2 linked regions of the Homo sapiens genome follow. The protein of the gene in region 1 purifies or fractionates together with the protein of each later gene. This does not show direct contact. Each region holds a gene or a part of one and is shown in the gene's direction. Other genes may lie near its edges.

Region 1 (5,131 bases):
TGAAATAAGAGAAGCATGAAGGTCATTGGGGTAGGAGGAACATAGGACACAGAATTTAAGGAGGCGCTCGTTCTCAGGGGTCAACAATGCACTCACAGGACCTGAAAGTGAGCGCCTCCTTAAATTCGCGCCTTGGTACTTTACCCACCTTTCCCTCATCGGCCCGGATTGGCCCCTCACCTTTGAGCACTCTCTCCTCCTTGCACAGACACTGGCTACCAAGATGCCTTCTTTTGGCACTTTGCCCCACTGGCTCCTTAACTGGCTTCGCGACCTCCCTCTGGGTCCGTTCATGTGTCGAGCCCTGTGTTCTGCTTTTTGCTCATCTGAAAACCTCCCTGGTGAACATCCCGGGAGGGGATGACGTCAGAAGCCCCGAGGTCGACGTGTTACTCCTGTTCGTGATGTGTTGTACGTGTTTCCACGCGGCCCATCTGGAGACAATGCCTCAGGGCAGAGTCAGGCTTTGATGGTGGGAGTTTCAAGCTCTCTGTGAGCTCTCTGTGGGGTGGCTGGGATGTTAAAACCCAAATTTTACCACCCAGACTTGCGGAGGAAGCCATCCTGGATCCTAACCCAGAAGGGATTAAAGGTATCCAAAAGGCCCAGAGCATAAGTCAGAAATCACATTCAGTTCAGCAAAGCTTTGTTGAGCACCGACTCTGTGCTAGGCACTGTGAACATACAACAGAAAGGAGCATCTGTCTCATGCTAGAGGTATTTCTGCGTGTGACTGCCTTCCCCGCCAGGTCAACAGTTTCCCAGGGAGGGACTTCATCTCACTCTCTTCTATTGTACACCCCGCCTCCGCTCCCTGTGGTGGCCTTGGCTCCAAGCACAGTGGCATCTGGGCTCAGGACCATGCATTTAACTGGACTGATCTGAATACAGTTAGCCACCTGATTAAAAACACCGGAAAACCAGGTGTGGGCGCAACAAGGCTGTCTCTCAGTCCTGATCCCAAATAAGGAGGCAGATGAGACTGGGGGACGCAGGGATGGATGCATAGGAAGGGATCATGGCGGAGTTGTCAGCCAGGAATCATGGGGCTGCCTGTGTGCTGCAGGTGCCAAAGAGACCTCTCTGCAAGCCACACTCCCCCTGGCATGATCTCATTGGGCCCTTCACTTCTCACTCCTATTTCTGGAGGGATGTTGTTCCCTGCTTCTCAGCTGAGACTCTGGGCCTGACATCCAGATTGTTTTGCTATGCTCAGACCCCCAGAAGCTCCTCCTGAACTTGATCCTTGAAACTTGAGCTACTATAGAAAATAGAATAACAATTAATAGTTATTAATTATTGAAGTATTTAATAACCAGCAAGGCAGGGGCACCGGCCAATCGGAAGAGACACATAGCACAAGACTGGCATCTTGGGGGCCCCCCCAGTGCCAGTCATTCACCGCTCTTTGCTGGTCTGCAGGGAGCTCCAAGGGTCATGGGAAAGGAGGTGGGTATCTGGACTGGGGTGGGGGAATATTGAATACTCAGGGCCACTGAGTATTCAATATTCTTATAATAGATACATTCACACTGGGGATACTGGCTAGATGTCAGCCTCATCGCAGCTCACTTGGCTATCAATCCTGACTGTTTTATGTACGTATATATTTTTTCCCAATGCACAGATAAACTTACAGAGAAAGAATTCATTGAGGGGACACTGGCCAATAAGGAAATTCTGCGACTGATCCAGTTTGAGCCTCAAAAAGTGAAGGAAAAGATGAAGAACGCCTGATGCCAACTGTTCAGCTGTCCTCCCTCCACCTACCACTCACATGACACCCGTGAGCGCCTGTGCACACACACACACATGCACACACACGCGCGCGCACACACACACACACACATCCACCCCAGGGCCAAGAGAAAGGCCTGCACACAAGCCCACAGCACAGCTCCCTGCCAAACTGAAGCATCTGTAGTGACCCACTGGTTCCTTCTTCCTGGGTCTTCAGCATTCCCTCCCATCATGCCCGGTCCCACCCCTCCCTCTGTCCACCAGCCCATGGCCCTGTGCTAATCCCAGGATTAGGCCATAGGAGTCCTAAGTGTCACCCCGCTGTAAGCTCCTTTGTGGAGTGCTGGGTAAGCAGTTTCCAATAAACGCAAGCTGAGCTGGGCACGTGGCTGCTGGTCATCCTTCAACTGGAAAAGGAAATGATTTCTATCAGTCACACCTCAAAGACAAGGCTGTGTTGCGATGGCAGCCCTAGGCTGGGCTGCTTTGGTGCGGAATGAGTCTAATGCGGTCCTGCTGTCATGGAGCTCATGGTCCAGAGGGGACAATGAACCTGGAAGGAGCCATGACCAGTGGCCCAGGTTACCATGGAAACGTGCAGAGCACCAGGGGAGGACACAGTGGAAGGGGCTGACTTGTCAGGGGGGATCAGGGACCACATCCCTGACGAAGGGAGATTTAAATTCAGAACCACTGCACACGAGGCGGGGGACGGGGTCGGGGTGGGGAAGTCTCAAACAGAAGGCGGCCAACACAGAGCCGCTGAGGCATGAATGACCATCTCGAGTTCCAGGAGAAGGTCGGGGTGGCTGGAGGGTAGAAGGAGGAGGGAGAGCAAAGTGTGAGCTGAATCTAAAAGGTAGGCGGGGGCTGGACCACGCAAAGCCCTCCCTGCAGCCTGTGGTAAGCACTTGGGGGCTCACCATGGGGACAGCGGTGCCACTGTGGAGTTGGAAGTAGGAGGGGTTTATGTTTGTAAGAGAAGTCCCCAGCAGGCTAAAATAAGTCAGAGAGGAGCAACTGGGGGCTCCCTGGAGTCAGGGAGCCCGATGAATAAGCTTTTGCAGCCACTCAGATGGCCTGGGCCAGGGGAAAGGCAATGGGATGGAGAGGACCAGATCCAGTGAGGACACATTTAGGAGGTAGCATCCACCTGGCTGGCTGAGGGGGCAGGAGGAGAGAGGGCAGGAATGGCAGCCAGGCCTGTAGCTTGGGCAGTGGGTGAATAGCAATGCCATCTATGGAGATGAGAAATACAGAGAGTCTTTGGGGTTTCAGGGAACAATGATGAATTCAGCTTCAATATAGTATGAGGTGAAGGCAGAGCCATAGATGGCCCTAAAGCCCCTTGTTTTAGAGACAAGGAAAAGGAGTCCCAATGACAGGAAGCAGCTTGCCCAAGGGCAGCCAGCTGATGAGCAGAGGTCAGGCAAGGGCTACCCACCGGCCCCCAACTGCCTCCTCAAAGCTCCAGGGCCTGGGATACCCAGGAACTCCATCAGTGCATTCTCCAAGATCCCTGGATTTGTTGCTTTGAAGGCCCATTTATTCTCCAGCCTCAAGTTCCAAGATGAGGTCAGAAAAATGCATGGATACCCTGGATTCTTGACTGACCTGTCTGCAACCTCTTGAGGCTGAGGAGTCTCTAGTTGCTGGTATTGTGGTGATGCCTCCAGACCCCACTTTAGCCACAGAGATGACACAATCACCACTGCCAAAGAGCACTCCTCTGTGTGGAGAGCAAACGTGAGAATAAACACTTATGAACCGTGCACCATGCTAGACTCTGCCATCATTATTTCATTGATGGAGATGTTATTATCTGCACAATACAGATGAGGATACTGAGGGCAGGAAGTGTGAGTAGGAGTTGGTACTTAAACTGGAGTCCCTTTGATTACACCAGATTTCTCCAATAGTTTTGACCTGGACACAGCAGGATAGAGAACTCTAGGATTGCACAATGTCAGAGATGGAAAGGGGAAGGAGGCTACAAGGCATGAGTCCAGAGGTTCTGGGAGGAGAAGGATTATTACTAGAATCATCTACCCAAGGCATTCTCCCATGTAGACATAGTGGGCTATATAGAAGCCAGTTCAGTGGGAGATAAAAGACTCTGTGGGTCCAGTCCAGAGTGTTCTAGGAATATAACCAAAGGGCTCAATGCTCTTTCCACCACACTCCATGAATGAATCTGGTTGCTTCGAGGATGAGGCTGGGGGCTTTTCACTTCTCTCTGAGGTCAGTCTATCATTGTCACTTGAGTCTAAAAGGACAGACACTGCATAATTAGGTCCTTGCTGGTTTGTGGTTCAATGGGAGAGCCAAAGAGTGAAAACCTAATTAGTGCCTCTTTTTTTAGCTTAGGGTGGAAGGACCACTTGGGCTGAGATTCTCTACAGCTGTATGACACTTTGTGGAAAATAAAGCATGAAGTTCAACTTGGCCACAGGGAAGAGGAGGTGGAGATAGTGATGAGCTATGTCATCAAGACTCTTCCAGATGCAAAAGGTAGATGACCTGGCACAAATTATTGTGGCACAAATAGAAATTGCTTGGCTCTTATAGCTGAAATTCTAGGAGTAGGGCTAGCTTCAGGTATGGCTTAATCCAGGGGCTCCAACAATGTCCCAGAGTTCATTTCTCCCTCTCCTGGTTCTGGTTTCTGCTGTCACCACCATTCTCAGACAGGTTCTTCCCATGCTGGCAGGACGGTCACCAGCAGATCCAGGCTGCCTTCTTCATGGTTCCAATTTCAGCAGAAAAGAGAAAATGCTTTCTCTTAAGAGTCCCAGCCAAAGTGTCAGGATTGCATCTCACTGTCTCTGGTTAGTTATATGCCCATGCCTGACTCAATATCTGATGCCAGAAGGATGTACTGCTCTGCTTGGCCAGCAGATTTTTATGCCCATCCTTGAACTGAGGATAGAGTCAGGACAACTCAAGTTCCGTGGACTGACAGTAGGAGATGAGTGGTTTTTCCAAGAGGAAAATTGGGGTACTATAAGAAGGGCAGATTCTAAAAATAGATGTCTACTATAGAGACCTTGGGGAAGTCATTTCCTGTCTCTAGATCCCTGACTCCTCAAGTACATGTAAATTCAAGGGCAGAAATGGGTCTCATTAAGAGCAATAATCCAAACTGCCTGAGCTTCTGTTGCCACCTGCCCACATAAGATCCCAGCCCCTTGTGCAGTGTCTCTTGGGCATTTTTAGCATCTCCAGGAGGTGTCCCACACAGATTCACCCATAGATCCCTTAGTGCCAGGTGCCATTGCTGCCCTCAAGTACTACGTTCCTAATCACAGGCGAGGCCACAGTGCTCCTAATGTACCCAAGCTGTGTGCTGATCTGCTGAGGAGCCTTCTAGGTTAGAGTCTATCAGAACAGC
Region 2 (4,344 bases), on another chromosome or scaffold:
AGCTCATTGTATTGTACTCATTATATAGAAATTTTGTACATGTTTTACATTTTTCACAATAAAAATGTAAGCAGAAGGATTAACCAGGAACTGTGCTCCCACCAGCACCTAGAAGTAGCTGTCTGTCAACGGGCATCTGAAATCTCACCCCCCACAGGCTGGCTCTTGTAGTGTAGTAAAGTTTTTAATCCTGCCACAGGACTTCTAAAGAACACATATAGTACCACATTTTCATTTAAGGTTTATTTCATTCTACCTGAAAACACACAAGTAGCAGCAGTCTCATGTTCCTTAAGTGTTTGAACTGCCCAAGTGAATCTTGTGGATAGAATGTGCTAGATTATATTAAAAATTCCATTGCTGCTGACATTAATTTGAACAAATTCAAAATAATGTTCTTAATGAAGAGAATAAAGTCCATTTACTCAGTGGTTGGTTCATACTTTATTTCACAGCCAGGTAAGTCAGTTTCTGTCTCTGGCTTTCCTGGTTAACAGCACCTGTGTCTGAAGAGAGGTGGAGGGAGTAGTAGAGAAAGTCCCTGGTAGGAGAGAGGCCTTAAGTGAACACCATCACTGTGCACTGAAGGGCTGTTTGAAGTTGTTAAGAGAAACATGTGGGCTGGGCATGGTGTCTCACGCCTGTAGTCCCAGCACTTTGGGAGGCCAAGACAGGTGGATTGCTTGGGCCCAGGAGTTTGAAGCCAGCCTGGGCAACGTGGTTGAGACCCTGTCTCTACAAAAAAATAGAAAAATTAGCAAGGCATGGTGGTGTGCACCTGTGATTTCAGCTACTTGGGAGGCTGAGGTGGGAGGATTGCTTGAGCCTGGGAGTTCAAGGCTGCAGTAAGCCAAGATGGTCCCATGCACTCCAACCTGGGTGACAGCGAGATCCTGTCTCAAAAAAAAAAACAAAACCAAAACAACAACAACAACAACATGCGAACTTTGGTCTCCTACCCATCTCTAACAAATGGTGGGGCTTACTATGAGCAGAGAGGGGCTTATCATAGAGTAACGGTTCAGAGCAAGGGCTTTGGGGTCAGACTTGGGCTTGAGTGCCAGCTTCACAGTCAACTGTGACCTGAGAAAAGGGAAGAGTGAGCCCTTCCCAGCTGTTTCAGAGAATAATGGTAGAATAGTAGCCTGCACATGGCTAAGTGCTCAGTAAACAACAAGTCTTATTATTAGGTATTCCCTGGGGCCATATGTTTTATTTCAGCTAAATGCTGATATTCGTAGAATCATGTAGAAGAATGTGTAGGTATAAAGGAATGTAATGGTGCCTTTTTATTTTACAGGGTTCTTGAAGCTTTTGAGATTAACAATGGCAGGAAAATCATCACTTTTTAAAGTAATTCTCCTTGGAGATGGTGGAGTTGGGAAGAGTTCACTTATGAACAGATATGTAACTAATAAGTTTGATACCCAGCTCTTCCATACAATAGGTGTGGAATTTTTAAATAAAGATTTGGAAGTGGATGGACATTTTGTTACCATGCAGATTTGGGACACGGCAGGTCAGGAGCGATTCCGAAGCCTGAGGACACCATTTTACAGAGGTTCTGACTGCTGCCTGCTTACTTTTAGTGTCGATGATTCACAAAGCTTCCAGAACTTAAGTAACTGGAAGAAAGAATTCATATATTATGCAGATGTGAAAGAGCCTGAGAGCTTTCCTTTTGTGATTCTGGGTAACAAGATTGACATAAGCGAACGGCAGGTGTCTACAGAAGAAGCCCAAGCTTGGTGCAGGGACAACGGCGACTATCCTTATTTTGAAACAAGTGCAAAAGATGCCACAAATGTGGCAGCAGCCTTTGAGGAAGCGGTTCGAAGAGTTCTTGCTACCGAGGATAGGTCAGATCATTTGATTCAGACAGACACAGTCAATCTTCACCGAAAGCCCAAGCCTAGCTCATCTTGCTGTTGATTGTTAGATTGTTGATGCATTCTAACCAACTCACACATATACACAAAATCAACATGGGGATGGAGAAGAGAATTAGCGTTTGCAGCAGTGTATCATCTACTAATAAAATTAAACTAATGTTGCTGCTTCATTAGTTGGTGGGAGAAGGGACACATCCACTCTTGGAGGAATATATTTACTCAATAATGGCACCTTACATTTATAAATTGTAACAGTTGTCTAATAACGTTTCTTTAATTTAAATATGTAAGTTGCAGAGCTAATAAATGAAATGACCAAGACTTTAATTATAATAAAAATAAGAAACTTGACTATTCTAGAAGTTATACTTGGATTTTTTCCTGGGAAAATGGAGAACTACTTTTTATATGTGTATGTTTTTATGCAATTAGCATTGTATTCTTGGTTCAGGGAAATACTTTCCTAAAGCAATAATGTTAGATATTAAAGATTAAAATCTAATGTATTTGCAATGCATTGTTAATTTACTTCTTCATTCTCTTCAAAATGATTTAACCATTCCTGTTTTCATTCTACATACTAGAATTACTCTCACTAGTAATTACTCATCATTTGTGTGCCATTCATGCACCCCCACCCCCATAAATCATGTTCCACAGTCTCAGGCGGAGGGTGGGCCCCCAGTGGTACAAGAGTTGCTTCATACAGTCTGTAATACATCCAGCTAAATTCAAGTTGTCTATGAATGGAAAGCCTTTCCATAGATAGAGTTCAGTTTTAAGAAAAAGGCTAACTACTGAACTTGGAGAACAGACAAATGTGCATTTGATAACTGATGTAATAATTACAATGTACTGTGTGGAAGATACAAAATTACAATTCGATTAATGGACTAAATATTTTTGTTACTTTCTTGACCCTTGGGGAAAGTTTCTTAATTGAAGTTAAAACATTCCTTTATAACACAAGACACAAGCTGACTTTATCACTCTCAGAAGAAATACTAAGAAGGATTGTACTTTGTGAGAGGGTAAACGAAGACATCTTTATTCGGCAATGTATTTACTTAGTGTCTTCTCTATTACTGAACATTTAGTGATTTGCTCTCAAGGAGATTTTTTGTTAGAAAAAGACTTGTTGCAGTGATCAGACTTGATAAAGCAAATTGTGGTCTTTTGTGGATGAAGTTCATATGCTGTGTGGTTGGTGACTATCTGATTCTATGGAGGCTAACCAAAGCCTAGACTGAGTGTGGATGAGACCCTCAACTGGGGAGTGATGGGGATATCAAAGGACATGCTGGGTGAGAGGAGCTGACTGTCATGTAGGGAGTGAACCACTGCCCCCAGCAGAGATACAGTTCGGTTTTAAGAAAAAAGGCAAGGCCAGGCGCGGTGGCTCACGCCTGCAATCCCAACACTTTTGGAGGTCAAGAGGTCGACACCATCCTTGACAACATGGTGAACCCGGTCTCTACTAAAAATACAAAAATTAGTTGGGCATCGTGCCTGTAGTCCCAGCTTCTCGGAAGGCTGACGCAGGAGAATCACTTGAACCCGGAAGGTGGAGGTTGCAGTGAGCCGAGATCACATCACTGCACTCCAGCCTGGTGACAGTGAGACTCCACCTCAAAAAAAAAAAAAAAAAAAAAAAAAGCAAACTACTGAACTGGAGAACAGACAAACCTGCATTTGTTAACTGATGTAACAATTACAATGTGCTGTGTGGAAGATACAAAATTACAATTCATTAATGGACTAAATGTTTTTATTTTTCACCCTTGGGGAAAGTTTCCTAGTTGAAGTTAAAACATTCCTACTATTACTTGTCTTAGAAGAAAACCTTTTTATATTTCTGTACAAACTTTTCATTTTAATATTGTGACACCACCATGCAAGTTCTCACACAATATCCGTGTCTTGTAGAGTAGTGAAGTGTTTGTTAAGTAGAAAAACACACCAGTGTGGTACCCAGTGAAAGGTGGTGTCTGGAGAGTCAGTGGTTTCTGGAACTCTGGACTGTCAACCAGGAAGTGTTGAAGTGACTGAAAAATTAAAGCACATGGGTAATAGCATGGGCAGAGCAGAGACTGAGACGATCTATGTCCATGCCAAAGGAAGCATCCTAGTAAGTTTCTGGCTATGGCAAGATGACAAAACTCGGTGTACGTTTTATCTGGATCACTTTTGGAGCACTAAAGCAGATAACCAACTTTGTGCTAACATACATGTGCTCAGGAGAGCCTGATTTTAAGACTGACTTCACCCCATTGCTCTTGTGTTCCAGAACCTTCAAGGAACATCACCTACCAGATCCAAGCTTTGCCAGCTTAGCTTTCCTCATGATCAGCTCCTATCTATCTATCAATCAATCAGCTGTCAGTTCCACCCATGTGCCCAAGTGCTCTTCACACCTTCACACCTGCAATGCTTTCCTGTGCAGCCTACCTTG

What was found. The genes of interacting proteins can lie anywhere in the genome.
Region 2: the proteins of RCVRN (region 1) and RAB9A purify together in Homo sapiens (affinity purification with mass spectrometry; 2 studies listed by BioGRID and IntAct, with this or other methods). This does not show direct contact.

The regions. Positions count from the first base shown.
Region 1 is NC_000017.11:9,894,701-9,899,831, reverse strand, and holds the end of RCVRN (recoverin), read left to right. Parts: intron 1-1,627; coding exon 1,628-1,737; 3' UTR 1,738-3,512; downstream 3,513-5,131. UniProt on the Homo sapiens protein: Acts as a calcium sensor and regulates phototransduction of cone and rod photoreceptor cells. Modulates light sensitivity of cone photoreceptor in dark and dim conditions.
Region 2 is NC_000023.11:13,707,421-13,711,764, forward strand, and holds the end of RAB9A (ras-related protein Rab-9A), read left to right. Parts: intron 1-1,300; 5' UTR 1,301-1,326; coding exon 1,327-1,932; 3' UTR 1,933-3,084; downstream 3,085-4,344. UniProt on the Homo sapiens protein: The small GTPases Rab are key regulators of intracellular membrane trafficking, from the formation of transport vesicles to their fusion with membranes.